2 separate regions of the Homo sapiens genome follow, and region 1 is linked to region 2. Evidence: fine-mapped expression QTL. Tissue or cell type: putamen. Region 2 holds a variant in brackets; the other region holds the start of a gene. All regions are shown on one strand. Distances are between the middles of the regions.

Region 1 (8,331 bases), 28 kb before region 2:
AATCCGTCTCTATTGACAGCATTTGAAAAATGATTCTGGCAGACAGAAATCCAGCTGCTATCAGATCTCTAGCTGGAATGGCTTGTCAGACTGTGGTACCCCAGCGGGGGACAGAACCCAGGAGAAAAAGCAGGTTTAGAGAGAAAAAGTTCATTTCTTGACATGATAAATTTGAGCTTTTGAGGGATATTCTGGTAAAGGTACTAGTAGGCTGGTATTTATTGATACATCTGTAATTCTTGTACCTCCCTCCTATTAAAGAAAATTCAAACAATCCAAACGAATGCAGGGAAAGAGAAAAAAGAAACAACAAGAAAGCATATTGTACATGATATTTGAAATATTAAGCCACTGGTGTAGCCTGTTTGCTGACTAATTAGAATCTTAGAAAAGGTCCTAGAGGGTCTCCCTGTGAGAAGCATTGACCCTTTTTTGCCAGATCAGAAGAAGGTCAGGAGTGGGGGCACTGTGGGGTCTCAGGTGAGCAGCTATTTACCAAGCAGCATGGAAGAATTCCAGTTTGTAATAATTTATAGGATTTTATCAATGTGTTCTAGATGAATATCCATTTCAAGGGTATATGTATAACACAAATGATGGCAGAAATAAACCCAAATATTTCTGTTATTCTTATCAATGTGAACTGGTTAAACTCACAAATTAGAAATAGAAACTCAGATGAACTTTTTAAATCTTGTAAAAAACAATATGTCATTTCCAAGAGATAAACCTAAGTAACAATACAGAAAGAGTAAAAAAGGAGAAATAAAACATATACTAGACAAATGCTATCTCAGGATAACAATATTTATACAAAAAGTAATAAAACTGAATAAGTCATAAAAGGATAAAACAATATTAATTTGTATAAGCCTAATAATTTGCTCTCAAAATTATAAGGCTGGCCGGGTGAGGTGGTACATGGCTGTAATGCCAGCCACCTAGGAGGCTGAGGCAGGAGGATGGCTTGAGGTCAGGAGTTTGAGGCTGCAGTTATAATCACACCTGTGAATAGCTACTGTACTCCAGCCTGGGAAACATGGTGAGACACTGCCTCTTAAACAAAAATCAAAAAACCAAAAAAAATAGTATAAAGCAAAATCAGACTAAATTAGAGGGAGAAATTGACAAACTACAATAAAAGTGGGAAATGTTAAACCTACTCTTTCAGAAATCAATGGATTGAACAGGAGAGAAAAAAAAAAAAAACCCAGGAGATAAAAGATCTAAATAACCTGATTAGCAAGCTAGATGGAGAGATATAGAGAAAAAAAAACCACATAAAAAGTGAAGAGACGTTCACAAAAATTGGGACAGCCAAAAAAAGTCTGTATATGAGGCCACAAAGGAGGCATTAACAAATTCTAAAAGAACACATTTCCTCATCTCCAAGCATTAAAGTTAGAGATCAATGACAAAATGATTGATTTATTTTTATTTAAATTTTTTTTTGTAGAGGGGCTCTCACTGTGTTGCCCAGGCTGGTCTTAAACTCCTGATCTCAAGCGATCTTCCCACCTTGGCCTCCCAGAGTGCTGGGATTACATGCCTGAGCCACTGGGCCCCTCCCCAAATGATTATTATTATTTTTTAAAAAACTGAAGTTTGAAAACAAAAAAAGAATGGAAAATATACGTCTAAATAATCCATGAATTAAGCATACAATCCTAACATAAAAAACAAAATATTGGCCAGGCACAGTGGCTGACGCCTGTAATCCCGACACTTTGGGAGGCTGAGGCCGGTGGATCACTTGAGGTCAGGAGTTGGAGACCAGCCTGGCCAAAATGGTAAAACCCCATCTCTACTAAAAATTAAAAAATTAGCCGGGTGTGGTGGCGTGCACCTGTAATCCCAGCTACTCAGGAGGTTGAGGCAGGAAAATCTCTTGAACCCGGGAAGTGGAGGTTGCAGTGAGCTGAGATCTTGCCACTGCAGTCCAGCCTGGACGACAGAGCGAGACTCTGTAACAACAACAACAACAAAATCCAAATATGTATAACTAAGTGATAACAAAAGCATAGCATATTAAAACTTGTGATATTCAGCTAAAGCAGACTTTTGAGGGAAATGATAGTCATATATACTTATTAGAAAACAACAAAAGAGGCCGGGTGCGGTAACTCACACCCGTAATCCCAACACTGGCCCTAAAATTAAAATTTTTAAAAAGGAAGCTTATATACCATACTACTCAGAGCTATATAGCACGTCACCATTTTTTACAGTGCACTCACCTTCCCTTACCTTGTATGATGTTTCTATGAGCCCTGGGAAACAATGAAGCAGGGGTGATTTTATGGATTTTTATAGGTCACGTTGAAGATTTTATAGGTGAGAAAGCCGAGGCTCGGAGGATGCATGACTTGCAAGTGTCAGAATCAGAACTAGAATAGATCCCACACATTTGAACACCGAGTTTGGTGTCTTTTCCTTCACACCGCGTTCTCTGGGGGTGCCTGGGCGGTGACCCCTGCCATTGGCCTTGAGGATTAGGGCCTCAGCTCGGGTCCTCTGCAGAGCCTCCTCAGTCCCTAGCAACTTGCTGGCACCTAGCCGGGGCTAAACGCAGGTTTGTTGAAAATTATAAAAGGGTAAGCCCAGGGGTAGCTATTCACCATTCTGGGTTTGAAGAGCTCTGATGCAGAAAGGTGTATACATCCAGCAGGAATTCCACCCTACATGATTTATTATAAACGTGGTATTCTAGGAGCATTCGCTCAGCCACGGAGAAAAATGGGCCTTTCGAAGAAGCTGGCCTTCGCGGTCGCTGTGGGGCGGCAGAGCAGGCGCAGGCGTCCAGGCAGTGGGGGCTGGGTAGGCGCCAGGAGACCTTCCCGGACCAATCCCCGGGCCCAGAGAGAGCGCCTGGAGACCTTACCTCCCCAGGAAATTCACACAGATTTCTTGGGGGCTTCACACCCGCGCCCCCAGTCCCGCCATCTCCTACGCCGCAGCAGGCGCCCCCACCAGGGTAATAACCCACTCTGAGAGTCTCTGGTGGTGCCTCTGATCCTCTGCTCTTCTGTTCCAGGCAGCGTTTTCTCCGAGCGGCTCTGGAGACTTTGGCCTGAGTTTCACCCTCACTCGCCGACTCATGTCCAAAAAATGCAGTCCAGCCCCGAAAGAGAGCCGCGCCTGCTGGTGGGGGTAGGGGGTGTTGGAGCGGCCACGGAATATGACTGAGCGCCCGGGGCCCGTTGTGAGGCCGGGGCCAGGCTGTCCCAAGGCACCGTTCCTGCCCGGCACCAGCACACCTGCCCAGACAGGGAGAAGGTCGGAGCCTCCCCTCCAGTCCTTCCGGATTTTATTGTTCAGAGCGACTTTAAAACGCAAATCGGGCCGGGCGCGGTGGCTCACGCCTGTAATCCCAGCACTTTGGGAGGCCGAGGCGGGCGGATCATTTGAGCCTAGGAGTTCGAGAACAGCTTGGCCAACATAGTGAAACCCCGTCTCTACTAAAAATGAAAATTAGCCGGGCGTGGTGGTGGGCATCTGTAGATCCAGCAACTCAGGAGGCCGAGGCAGGAGAATCGCTTGAACCCGGGAGGCGGAAGTTGCAGTGAGCCGAGATCGCGCCACTGCACTCCAGCCTGGGCGACAGATCGAGACTCCGTCTCAGAAAAAAAAAAAAAAAAAGGAAAATCGAACCAGCAGCTTGTTTGTAACAGCCAAACATAGGCAACAACCTAAATGTCCTTCAGTAAGGAGCTAGGTAATGAAGAATGGTGAAGCGCACGATGGCGCGCAGTGTGCAGTGGATGGGAAGAACCAGGTCTGTTCAGGAGCACTTGTATGGAAAGACCCTCCAAGATATAGTGAGTAAAAAAACATGTTGCAGAAAAGTACTGCAATATCGTTTTGTAAACAATACGTTTATGTAAACACACACACACAGTGTTAAAGAGAGATATTTGGAAGGACACACCTAAGAGTGGGCTGGGGGAGTGGAGGGAAGAGTGAATCTCAATTTTTACTCATTTTTTGAATTTTTTATTTTTAGTTTTTTAGAGACTGGGTCTCACTATGTTGCCCAGGCTAGTCTGGAAGCCCTGTCTTCAAGCCATCCTCCTGTCTTGGCCTTCCAAAGTGCTGAGATTACAGGCGTCAGCCACCACTCATTAAAAAAAAAAATTGTATACCTACCATATATGCATATATTACCTGGGTGACCTTTTAAAAATATGCTTTATTTTTAGAACATCTTTAGATTTACAGAAAAAGTGTGAATACAGGGAATTCTCATAAACCCGGGCTTTTCCTATTATTAACATCTTAAGTCATTTTTATATCTCCGTGGGTTCCTCTTGGCTGTGACAGTGTCCTAGACTTTCCTTGTTTTTGATGACCTTGCTAGTTTTCAGGAGTACTGGTCATGTATATGGCAAGGGCCTCAATTGATTTGTGATGTTTTCCTCATGATTACAGTGGGGTTAGGTGTTCTTGGGAGGAAGACCACAAGCGGTGCATGCAATCAGTATGATTTACCCCTGTCGAGGTCACCTTGACGGCTGGGTGGTTTGTCAGGTTTCTCCACGATAGTCACTGACCGCTCCCTTCCTCACATACTGTGCGTGACCTTCCCCCCTCCACCACCACCGAGTGTTGCTATAAAGGAAATGCGTTTGACCTTTTCAGTGTAAAAAGTTTTCTCGACCTTAAAGAGAGTCACTAACCGACGCACACGGGGCTGGAGAGGACTTAGGAAATGCCCACCCCTGCAGGAGGGCGAATGCGGCTCTGCGCGGCACTGGGCGCCGCAGGGGTTAGGGGCGGCAGAGGGACCTCCGGAGCCCGAGACTTCCTGGAGCAGCTCCGCAGCCGGAAGGCTGCTGCTCCTCGCGGGCCCGCCGTGCCCAGTCCTCATCTTGGGGGCGGGGCCGCGCTCAGGCCCCGCCCCTCCCTTGCACTGCCTCTGGCACCTGGGGCAGCCGCGCCCGCGGAGTTTTCCGCCCGGCGCTGACGGCTGCTGCGCCCGCGGCTCCCCAGTGCCCCGAGTGCCCCGCGGGCCCCGCGAGCGGGAGTGGGACCCAGCCCCTAGGCAGAACCCAGGCGCCGCGCCCGGGACGCCCGCGGAGAGAGCCACTCCCGCCCACGTCCCATTTCGCCCCTCGCGTCCGGAGTCCCCGTGGCCAGGTGAGTGAGGGTCCCGAGCCGGCTGGGGGCCTGGGACCAGGCGGCGGCAGTGCACCGCGGCGCCGCGGGTGAGGCCCGGGGCTGCCTGGCGCCCAGCCCAGCGCGGCCCTGCGGCTTCCTGGTTGCACTACAGGCGTGGGGGTGGGGGGCAGGGGAGGGCGTCGGCGGGTCGCGGGCGGGCCGTGTCGGCCTGGCAGCCCCCTAGATCAGCCTCGGCGTCTGGGGCTGCTCCCTCATGTGTGGTCGGGGTGCACTCGCCGTCCCCCCGGGCTCAGGGGTCGGGGTCTCAGTCTGGGCCTGGGTAGGGCCAGGGGCCGTGACCCTGGGCGCAGGAGGCAACGGGTGGCGGGAGGGGTGCCGGAGGCCCGGCCCCGCAGCCCTGCGGAGCCCTCCAGGGTGCGCGCGCCCTTCTAGGCGAGGCTTGGGGAGATTAAGCAGAGAAGGCTATCTTCAGGAACTTTCCTCCGAAACTGGGAGCACGCACATTCCTGGGAGCTGCTACCATTGCAGTTTATTTGTAAGGAACTCTCCCCAGTGTTTGAGGGAATGCGGGAGCCATCCCAGGTGCTGTGCGTGCCTTCGCCCCTTCCCCAACCTTGATCCCCAGTTTCAGGAAGGGATTCCTGGACTTGTATCTCCCATGGGTGCAGGCCAGGCCCTTAAGACTTAGGTAAAATGGTCTGTTGGTTTAAAGGAGACACGCGAAGTTTGTTACCTAGAGACTTTGGAGGGGAAAAGTTAAGCCAGCCAGTGCTAGCCCAAGCTGGAAACAGTCAGCCCGGGGCATTTCTGTCTCTGCCCTCCAATCCTTGACCTCTCTGTAGAGATTCGGCGTTTGTGGTAGCTCTCCCCTCTGTTCTCTGCGCTGGGCATGGAGTGGAGCTGTGAGGCCGAGCCCCTGCCCTGCCCTGCCCTGCCCTGCCCACGCAACAGGGACTAGGTTTGCAGGGCAGGGCCTGGTATGCTCACCCTTCACTGGCTCTCATTGCTTTCCTCATTCCTTTTATGCGGCAGTCAATTGTTGGGGATTCCAGGGGATTAACAGGGCCCCTTTCCTCAAGGCATTCTTTGTGCTGCAAGGTGTTCCCTGATAAGAGAGGCCAGGTGAGGTGCCAGGGCAGTTTGTTGCCCTGGCATTGGGTGCCCACTACTTCAGGCTCCTGCATACCTTGCTATCTTTTCTTTGACTATTGTCTGTGCTTTGGTTTTTCATCTGTAAAATGGGGGTAATAGTAATCCCTGCCTCACAGGCTTGTGAGATTCAGTGCATTCATTTATTTAATAACAATACAGAGCTCAGGTACGGACCAGTCAGAACAGGTGGTGACTGCTGCACCACACTTGTGTATCCCAGATGGGTGTCACCCACATTAGCCATAAAGTGTGTGAGGCAGGCCTGGGTCATAAATAATCAGGTGTAAGGGTCAATAAATAGTAGCAGTGGAAGGTTCAGCTAAAGTTGAAATGCACTTCTCCTGAACCGTCTTTCTGGCTTAGCTCATGCTAAGCTCATGCTCTCTGTCTTACTGGAATGCCCTCCCTCCCCTGTCTGGCCTAGCATTCTCCACCCTCCTGGGAGCCATCCGGGTGCCTGCTCCCAGCAGGAGGGACGGGATATGCTCTGAGCTCACTCAGCCCTTCTGGCACTGACTCGGTTCTCATCTCTCGCCTTGCATAGTATTTGTGTGGCGGTGTGGCTTATCGCTGCCCTGTCCTCTGACTCTGGAGGGTGGGGGCTGTTTCTGACTTACCTCTTGGTGGCAGCACTCAGGATGGGCCTTGCCTAATGTAGGTGCTCAGAAAATTAGTTGTCGTTAGTTGAACAACAGAGACAGCACAGGGAAGTGGTTTCCCTGTGGTTAAAATATAGGACCTTGAAGGCTGGGTTTGGATAGAGAAACGTGGGGAGGGTGAGATGGAGATGAATTGGGACTAAGAGGTGGGAGTGGAAGCCTCACCTGACGCCTTTATGCATGATACTATAGAAAGGGCCCACCCTGGGTGGATGTGTCTAGAAGGCCAGGATCGATTAGTGATGCCTAGTTCACGTGATTGGGGAGGTGATGTGTGGCTTGGGATGACAGGAGTGGGAGTTGAGACAGAATAGGTTAGTGTGGGTTCTTCTTGGAAATTGTAGAATAGAGAAAAGAAACTGGTGTGGGCAGGAGCTGAATGTGGAACCAAAATGCATGCTGAATGCTGGAACATCAGAGGTCCTGGGACCTTTCTGGTGCACCCCCTCCTTCCTCCTGGATTCACCCCTCTTCTTCTGCTGTCTTTTTTTTTTTTTTTTTTTTTGAGACAGATTTCGCCCTGTCACCCAGGCTGGAGTGCAGTGATGCAATCTTGGCTCACTGCAACCTCCGCTCCCTGGGTTTAAATGATTCTCCTCCCTTGGCCTCCCGAGTAGCTGGGATTACAGGCATGCACCACCATGCCCGGCTAATTTTTGTATTTTTAGTAGAGACGGGGCTTCACCATGTTGGCCAGGCTGGTCTTGAACTCCTGACCTCAGGTGATCTGCCTGCCTCAGTCTCCCAAAGTGCTGGGATTACAGGCATGAGTCACCGTGCCCGGCCTCCTCTCTCTTCTTAGCCACTGTTTTCCCCCGTAAGCCTGAAGCAGTTCCTGGCACTTGTTCCCATGGGGAAGCGTCTGTGTAAGGGTATGCTTCACCAGCACTGCCAAGGAAGTAGACTTTTCACTTTCTCTGGATTTTTCTCTGCAACACCCTCTGATCCCATTGCCCCCAGAATAGTAGGAATTTTGAGTGATACCTAGATAGGAAAGCTCTTAGGATTAATGAAGAAACTGAGATTTTCTTGGTGGGAGTTTGTGCTTTTAAAGGGAGTTGTTGCAATTCAATGGAACTCTGTAATAACCACTGAAACTGTTACACATTAGGCTTACTGACCCTATCTCCTATAACCCATGAAATAAAGACCTGATAGTCACATAGTTGTTTGCTATTTGGGAGGATCCTAAAAGTACAGCCTGAACAGTGACCCAAACCACAGCTGGCCTTGCCCATGCTGATGTGAGGAAGGAATGGGTGGGGGCAACTAAGAAATTGGGGGACAGAGTTCTCTGTGCTAGGTATCCTAGGACAAGCCACCCAGCCACACAGAGACCCCCCGCTTCCCCCCCACAGAACAGTTCTGGATGATAAAATGCCTGCCTGGAATGGAGAATCAG
Region 2 (8,331 bases):
ATATTGTTACAATCAGGGAAGCAACATCGATCCACCTATTCATTCTTTCCTCCCCTGACCTCTGGCAACTACTCATCTTTTTGCTGTCACCATAGTTGCTTTCTCCAGAATATCGTAGAGTTAGAATTATACAGTGTGTAACCTTGGGTGCTTCCAAATTGTTGGCCATTATGAATAACACTACTGTGAATGTCCATGAGCAGGTTTTGTGTGCGGCAGAAGTTTTCAACTTATTTGGGTAAATACCAAGAGCATGATTGCTGGATCATTGGTAAAACTATGTTTAGTTTTGTAAGAAACCACCAAACTGTCTTCCAAAGTGCCTATACCGCTTTACATCCCCACCAGCGATGAATGAAAGTTCCCGTTGCTCTGTATCCTCACCAGCATTTGGTGTTATCAGTGTTTTGGATTTTGGCCATTCTAATAGGTGTATAGTAGTATCTTATTGTTTTCATTTGCAATTTATTAATGACATGTTGAGCGTCTTTTCATATGCTTATTTGCCACCTTATATCCTCTTTGGTGAAGTGTCTGTTCAGGTCTTTTGCCTATTTTTTAAATCGTAAGGTTTTCTTGTTGAGATTTAAGAGTTCTTTGTATATTTTGGATAATAGTCCCTTTATCAGATATGTCTTTTGCATTTATTTTCTCCCATTCTATGGCTTGTTTTTCCTTCCTTTCATTTTATTTTATTTATTTATTTTTTATTTTTTTGAGACAGGGTTTCACTTCCATCGCCCAGGCTGGAGTGCAATGGCGTGATCTGGGCTCACTGCAACCTCCACCTCCCAGGCTCAAATGATTCTCCTGCCTCAGCCTCCTGAGTAGAGTAGCTGGGACCACAGTCGCATGCCATGGTGCTCGGCTAATTTTTTTGTATTTTATTTTTGTAACGACAGGGTCTCATTATGTTGCCCAGGCTGGTGTCAAACTTCTGAGCTCAAATGATCTGCCTGCGTCAGCCTCCCAAAGTGCTGGGATTATAGGCATGGGCCACTGTGCCTGGCCTCATCTTGTCATTTTAAAGAATATATCAGCAGGGATTATTGGACCTGCCTGGTTTAAACTATTGTCTTAGTTAATTTTGTGCTGCTCTAACAAAATATCACAGACTGAGTAATTTATAAGCAATAGTAGCTTATTTGGCTCACAGTTCTGGAGGCTGAGAAGATCGTGAGGCTGCATCTGGCAAGGGCCTTCTTGCTGCTTCATAACATGGCAGAAGACATCATGCGGGTAAGAGAGAGCATGTTATACTTTTGTAACAAACACACTGGTGGTAAGGAGCCCACTTCCTCCATAACACATTAATCCATTCGTGAGGGTAGAGCCTCTTAAAAGTACCGCCTCTCAGAACTGTTGTATTGACCATTAAGTTTGCAGCACATGAACTTTGGGGGATACATTTAAACAATAGCAATGATATATTTAAATTTTATGGATACAACCTTATGGGGAAAGTATTTTAAAAAATAAATTGTGTGTGTGTGTGTAAAAACAGGTTAAGGATCTAATGTTAAAAAAAAAAAAAACTAATATACAAATCAATATTCCAGCCACCAGACTGGGGAAGGCCAGTGGAAAATCACTCCATGAAAGCATCCACTGTAGTCCCGGTCTGCTTGGTTTGCTGTTAGGCCCTGAGGGGCAGGGGGTGTCACTGCTGTGTGGCTTCTGGCCCGAGATGATGTTTCTAGGCCCTTGCCTCTCAGCATTAACCTGGTGTAGGCTCTGTTCCCAAATGAGCCCTGTGTTGTCTTTCTGGGGAGGACAGTCCAGAGTCCCAGGCATGGCACTGACACCATCCACCCCTCCTTTCCCTTCTGTATCCCTGAAGTCAGGCAGGACACCAGCAAATGTGCATGGCCTAGCCTTGCTGGTGGCTGGAGCCCATATCTCCACCTCCAATTGTTGGGTAGAGACACAGCAAGGCTTCCCTTTTGGTAGGGGGATGACTGAGTCGGGGCAGTGAGGCTCTTCTTGCTCTGGCAGTTGCCTCCTGTCCCAGTGTAGCATTTCTAGATTCCTGTGTTAGGGGACTCCAGCTAGTACCCTTTTAGAGCCTGTGGAGTTGAATGGTACACTTACGTACACGTAACATGGCTTTAGGGAACAGGCCATTTTGCAGCCACTGAGAAGCACCCCCAGATAGCTGCTCTATGCTTTTGGCATTCACCAGACGCTTTGAGGCTGGCTTCTGATGCAGTGCTGTCATGCCAGACTCCTGTCAACTTTAATAGGGATGGCACCATGTTTGAGAGGCCGAAGAAGAGACCCAGAGCCAACGAACAAGGCATAGGGCTTATTGAGGGGACTTACATATGGGGCGGTCCAGTGGCAGCAGGCTGGATGGAAGGACCACTACTATTTGTAAAAAGCATGCAGTTTGTATAGCATTTTAATTTAGCATCCTCCTTCCTAACCACCTCCACCTGGCAACCTTCATTTAACGCAGAACAAAGGGCCTTGATCTCCTGTATGGCCATGGAATGGCTTAGGGGTTCTGATGTTCCTTATAGATAAGGAATGGATCTCCAGGTTGGCCACAGTTCCTCAGCTCAGAACTCTGAACACACATTCTTCTTAGACTATAGGGTCGTTCTGGGTATGCTTAAGTGATTGCTGTCAGGTGCATCTGTCATACAACTGTGGGGGTGCCTAGGTCTAGTCTGTGTCCCTAGAGCTTACTATTGTGAAGAAGAGTATATTCGTCCATTCTCACACGACTATAAAGAAATATCTGAAACTGGGTAATTTATAAAGAAAAGAGGTTTAATTGGCTCACAGTTCTGCAGGCTGGGCCTATGCCAGGTTGAAGGGCCCAGAATATGGGAGCCAAGGTACCAGCATTTTTAGCCAGCTCTCCAAGTGAGGGAAAGCATGATGCTGGCATCTGCTTGGGGAGGCCTCAGGAAACTTACAATCATGTGGCAGGCAGATCTTAACCTGGCTGGAGCAGGAGGAAGAGAGGTGTGGGGAGGAGGCGCTACACGCTTTTAAACAACCAGATCTCACCAGAACCCTATCATGAGAACAGCACCAAAGGGGGAAATCTGCCCCCATGATCCAGTCAGCTCCCACCTGGCCCCACCTCCAATGCTGGGAATTACAATTCGATTGTATTGTAATTAGAAATTACAATTTGGGCAGGGACACAAATCCAAACCATGTCAAAGAGTGAGATCAGATGAGCTAGAGAGTGTCCAATACCTTAAGGGAAAGAGTGTTTCCTAGAGTGTGGACCACAGAACCAGTTACATCAGAATTACTGGGGACTGGGGGGTATGTATGCTTGTTTACACTTCAGATTCCTGGGCCTATCCCAGGTTAGAAGGCCCAGAATATGGGGGCTAGGGCGCTAGCATGTTTAGTGAGCTCTCCAGGTGATTATCATGCATGATGAAGCAGTGTGGCCTGCAGGCAGGCAGCATCAGCATCACCTGGGAGCCACTGGAAATGCAACTTTTTGGGCCCTGCCCCAGAGACACTGATTCAAAGACTCTGGAGGTGGGGCCCAGCAATCTGTGTTTTAACAAGCCCTATAGGGGACTGTTTTCCAGAAGCACCGATTTAACTGGAGAGGGCCCCAGCTGGATGAAATCAGGTGCACAGCTGCAGGTGGATGGTCGCAGTGAGGAAGGAAGGGCGGTATTTGTGCTGCAGCCTGCCCTGAGAGGCAGGACCAGAGGCCAGAAGGTCCCCAGAGACAGGTTTCTAAGAATTGGACCCATCCTTAAGGAGGCCAGCTGCCTGCTGTGTGCAGGAGGCCCTCTCCAGTGAGTCCCCATGTCAGAGGGCCGTGATTAGAAGCAGGCGTAGAGCGGGGGACATGCCCCAGCCATCAGAATTGCACCAGCAGTGTGAAGCATGTCTCTTGCCCCATGCAAGGAAAGGAGGAGAGAGGCATTGGTCAGGGTGAAAGGTATGATTCTCATGGATGCCAGAGAGAGAGAGAGAGAGAGAGAGCAGATCTTCTGGATTATAGCTCACTGTGTTGCCTCTCTCCTGGGGAGTGGGTGCTGGACAGGCTAGGGAGGGGGACCCGAGGGCCTTAGAAGTCTTGCCGAGCCCAGATATGGCAGCCCTGGGGTGCCAGGAACGACTTCTCCAAGGACAGCCCCTTGCGGTAGCCTCTTTTGAAAAAATGCAGAGGTCACAGTTACCAGAAGACTGGACCATGAGCAGATTTCTTAATTTTCAAAGAAAAGGAGGAGAAGAATGCTGCTT[C/G]TGTGAGTCAGAGAGCAGTGTGCTAATCCTGCAGCCTCTAGCCTCCTAGAACATGGATAGCTTGGGGGGAGATTGGTCAGCGCTGGGAGCCTGTGTCCACCTGAAGGTCACCCCTGGCTATTGGGCTGCGTTTACTTTTCTCCTGGGGGTAATTAGGCAGATAAACAGGCTCTCTTCAGAGTAAATGTGCTAGAACCCTCACTTGGGCATGTGGAGAAATGTGTACTGGGTGGTGGCAGAGTGAGTTGGGGGAGAGCTGGTTAAATGCCTGCACCCACATGATGCCTAGTGTTTGATGTTGAACTGGGGAGTTCTGAGTATGACAGTTCTGTAGTGTCCCTCGTTGTCCCTTTCGTCTTGGTTACTTGGCAGAACACAAATGCCATGCTTATTGCATCCATGGATGTAAAACAAAGCTGAGAGAGAGGGGGAAGATGTTTGATGTTGAGCAGAATCCCAGAAGGTCTCAGGAGACTGGAGCAATGGGCAGAACCCAGGGGAGAAATTTCACAGGAGCCCACATAAGGTCTCCGTGGCCTGAAAACCCACTTGTACCAGTCCGGGGAGGTAGGGAGTAGCATCCACTGGAGGGAGATGAAGGTCCCGCCCTGCACTCTTCAGACCATACCTGGGGCGTTTGGTCCTGAAAAGAACTAAAAGATAAGAGTGGGGTCAGGCCAGGCATGTAATCCCAGAACTTTGGGAGGCTGAGGCGGGCGGATCATCTGAGGTTGGGAGTTCGAGACCAGCCTGGCCAACATAGTGAAACTCTGTCTCTACTAAAAATACAAAAATCAGCCTGGTGTGGTGGCAGGTGCCTCAGGTGCCTGTAGTCCCAGCTACTTGGGAGGCTAGGGCAGGAGAATTGCTTGCACCGAGGAGGTGGAGGTTGCAGTGAGCTGAGATTGCGCCACTGCACTGCAGCCTGGGTGACACAGTGAGACTCCGTCTCAAAAAAAAAAAAAAAAGTGGGGAGCAGGCTTGAAACTATTTCAGGCAGAGAATGACAGAGGGAAAAATGAGGCTATTCTTTCTAAGAACGGAGGACTAGAGGTATATCTTGGGGAGAGGGGAAGACCCAGGGTCGCAGGACCACAGCTCACAGTGGGGTCGACCTGCCCTGTGGGGCCATGCAGGGCAGAGCTCCTAGCCAGGAGGCAGATTTTGACTCCTGCTGGGAACTCCCTTAAAAGCCACCCCAAGAATGAGCTCCACGAGCGCCATCAAGGCTGGCCTGCAGGCCCTCCAGGGTTACCAAGGCTGCCTGGAACTGAATGGACCCTGTGTGTGTTCTTTTAGTCTTGGAAGACCAGCCAGGACTTTGGGGGCCAGACGGCTAGCCTCAAGTGAGCTCAGAAATCTGCACCTGAATTGGGCCTTTTTAAAAGTTGTTTAATGGCCAATACATACATGCAGCAGAAATGCACAGGGAACAGATCTAAACCGGAAGCCTCATTTTCTAGCCCCACCTTTCCTCTCGAGAGGCAGCTAGTGTTAGCTAGTTTCTTGTGTGTCATTCCAAGGATGTCCGTGCACGTCTACACTCAGGAACCACTTAGTTTGTATGTTTCTGGGTTTTTTATTAGCTTAGTACATACACAGTACTGCACCTTGATTAATAATGGTGGTCATTGCATCTTTCCATATACAGAGCTGGCTAAATCCAGAAATAGCTACAGAGTATCCATTGTTGGATCTGTTGTGGTTTATTTAACCAGCCTCATTGGTGGAGGTTTAGGAGTTGTTGCAGATAAGGCTGTAGTAAAATTCATGTCTGTATGACATTTCACACAGGTGTGTGTCTGGGGAAGAGACTTACAGAAGTGGAGTTGCTGAGTCAAAGGTATGTCATTTTAAGTTTTGATATCTTTGTATTTTATTTATTTATTTATTTTGGAGACGGAGTCTCGCTCTGTCACCCAGGCTGGAGTGCAGTGGCATAATCTTGGCTCACTGCAACTTCCGCCTCCCAGGTTCCAGCCATTCTCCTGCCTCAGCCTCCCGAGTAGCTGGTATTACAGGCACCCACCACCACGCCTGGCTAATTTTTGTATTTTTAGTAGAGACAGTGTTTCACCATGGCCAGGCTGGTCTCGAACTCCTGACCTCAGGTGATCTGCCCACCTCGGCCTCCCAAAGTGCTGGGATTACAGGCATGAGCCACTGCGCCCAGCCGACATCTGTGTATTTTTAATTGGTGATTTCCTCAGCACATTGGTGAAGGTGAGCATCTTCAGCTCCTTTTCTGTAACTGCCAGATCTGTTCACATCATTTGACAGTTTCTCTAGTGGTTATTGATCTTTTTCTTATTATATTAATAAAACTTTTTTCCTAAGTTTTTTTCTCATCTTTATTTTTTTTTAATTTGTCTCTTATGCTGAAATTTTATTTATGTCGTTGGTTTTTGGGGCTACTTCTTTCACTGCATTATTTGGCCTGGCTGGAATTTACTTGGTATAAGGAACAGGGTGGTATCCAGCTTCTGTTTCTTGGGTTTTTTCCCTGGCCTGGCTGTGGATGGAGCTTTTGGCTTCATTTCTCTGAGAGGAGGCCAGGAGTGGAGAGTGTCTTTGGTGCTCAAAGGTCCTGCCTAGTGGTGTCTCCAGAGAGGAAGGTGACAGAGACACCATCCCGGCTCTTCCTGCTCACCTGTCGGGCAGTTCCTTCTATTAGAAGGTTCCTGGCCTACTGGTCATTTACATCCCCCAGATTACCTCCTCACCAGTGAAGTCTGAGGGTTTGGCAGAGTCTGGGCAGAAGGGTCAGGCTGGGGCCGGGACGGGGAGGGCTTTGTACTGACAGCCCACCCAGCCTCAGGGACACCCTCTCTGAAGGTGATGCCACCGGGGACCTCATCCACCACGTGCTTAGGGGCTCAGAGAGACCGAAAACTGCAAGGAGTAGGTCCTTGGTCCACACTACAGGGAGCCAATTCCAGCTTTCTCCAAAGCCATAGGGCTTTGCCTACGGTCACCTCTGGACCCACTGACCCAAACAAATGACTACACCCGTAGGGCTGAAAACCAGGCCCACCCTATGGGGACCGGTGGTACCTTAAGGAAGTTCTTTAGCTTCCTTAAAAACAGCATGTAGGCTGGGCACAGTGGCTCATGCCTGTAATCCCAGCACTGTGGGAGGCCGCAGCGGGCAGATCACTTGAGGCCAGGAGTTCAGACCAGCCTGGCCAACATGGCGAAACTCCATCTCTACTAAAAATACAAAAATTAGCCAGGGATGGTTGCGCCCTCCTGTTGGAGGCTGAGGCACAAGAATCCCTTGATCCCAGGAGGCGGAGGTTACAGTGAGCTGAGCTCGCACCACTGCACTCCAGCCTGGGTGATAGAGTGAGACGCTGTTTAAAAAATAAAAGTAGGCCAGGCATGGTGGCTCATGCCTGTAATCTTAACACTTTGGGAAGCCGAGGCAGGCAGATCACCTGAGGTCAGGAGTTCGAGACCAGCCTGGCCAACATGGTGAAACCCTGTCTCTGCTAAAAATACAAAAATTAGCCAGACATGATGGCGGGCGCCTGTAATCCTAGCTACTTGGGAGGCTGAGGCAGGAGAATCACTTGAACCCAGGAGGCAGAGGTTGCAGTGAGCCGAGATCACACCATTGCACTCCAGCCTGGGTTACAGAGTGAGACCCTGTCTCAAAAAAATAAAAATAAATAATAAAAAAACTTAAAAAGAACAGCATATACCAGCCTCGGCAACATAGTAAGACTCTCAAAAAAAAAAATTAGCTGTGTGTGGTGGCACATGTCTTTAGGAGGCTGAGGCGGGAGGATTACCTGAGCCCAGGAGGTCCAGGCTGCAGTGAGCCATGATTGTGCCAGTGCACTCCAGTCTGGGTGACAGAGCGAGACCCTGTCTCAAACAAACAAAACCCAATATGCCCAGTTCTTCAAGATAGATATGAAGGGCAGCTAGACTCTTATAGTTGGATAGCGTGGCTAGAACAGTGGTCTTCAAAGTGAGTTCCCTGGACCAGTAACATCATCTGGAAACTTGTTCCAAATGCAAAAACTGGTTCCACTGTCTCAGAAACTCTTGGTGGTGGAGCCCAGCAATGTGTTTTAACAATCCCATCAGGTGATT

Direction of the effects. Positions count from the first base shown, and alleles are read on the strand shown. Sizes are in standard deviations (SD) of each study's normalised expression.
For the expression in putamen of the gene that starts at base 4,942 in region 1, G is the low allele of the variant in region 2 and C is the other (small effect, 0.29 SD a copy in GTEx).

The links. PIP is the estimated chance that this variant, and not a neighbour inherited with it, causes the effect.
Region 1: it holds the start of ANXA11, and the variant in region 2 is fine-mapped to the expression of ANXA11 in putamen (GTEx, PIP above 0.99). The same link has a PIP of 0.9 or more in nucleus accumbens and prefrontal cortex.

What each region holds. Positions count from the first base shown.
Region 1 is chr10:80,202,148-80,210,478 of GRCh38, reverse strand. It overlaps ANXA11 (annexin A11), which reads left to right and starts at 4,942. Exons shown (of 16, transcript NM_145868.2): 1 at 4,942-5,136. LINC00857 (long intergenic non-protein coding RNA 857) reads right to left here and starts at 2,769. Exons shown (of 2, transcript NR_038464.1): 1 at 2,248-2,769. RefSeq lists enhancers at 2,661-3,302, 2,333-3,532, 3,303-3,944, 6,584-6,663, 7,164-7,253 and a silencer at 4,719-5,598.
Region 2 is chr10:80,173,849-80,182,179 of GRCh38, reverse strand. It overlaps ANXA11 (annexin A11), which reads left to right. Exons shown (of 16, transcript NM_145868.2): 2 at 6,025-6,073. Among named protein-coding and RNA genes, the nearest start is that of ANXA11, 28 kb to the left of the region's middle. RefSeq lists enhancers at 3,736-4,236, 4,756-5,255, 5,256-5,757. The variant C/G (reference allele first, on the strand shown) is at 4,231.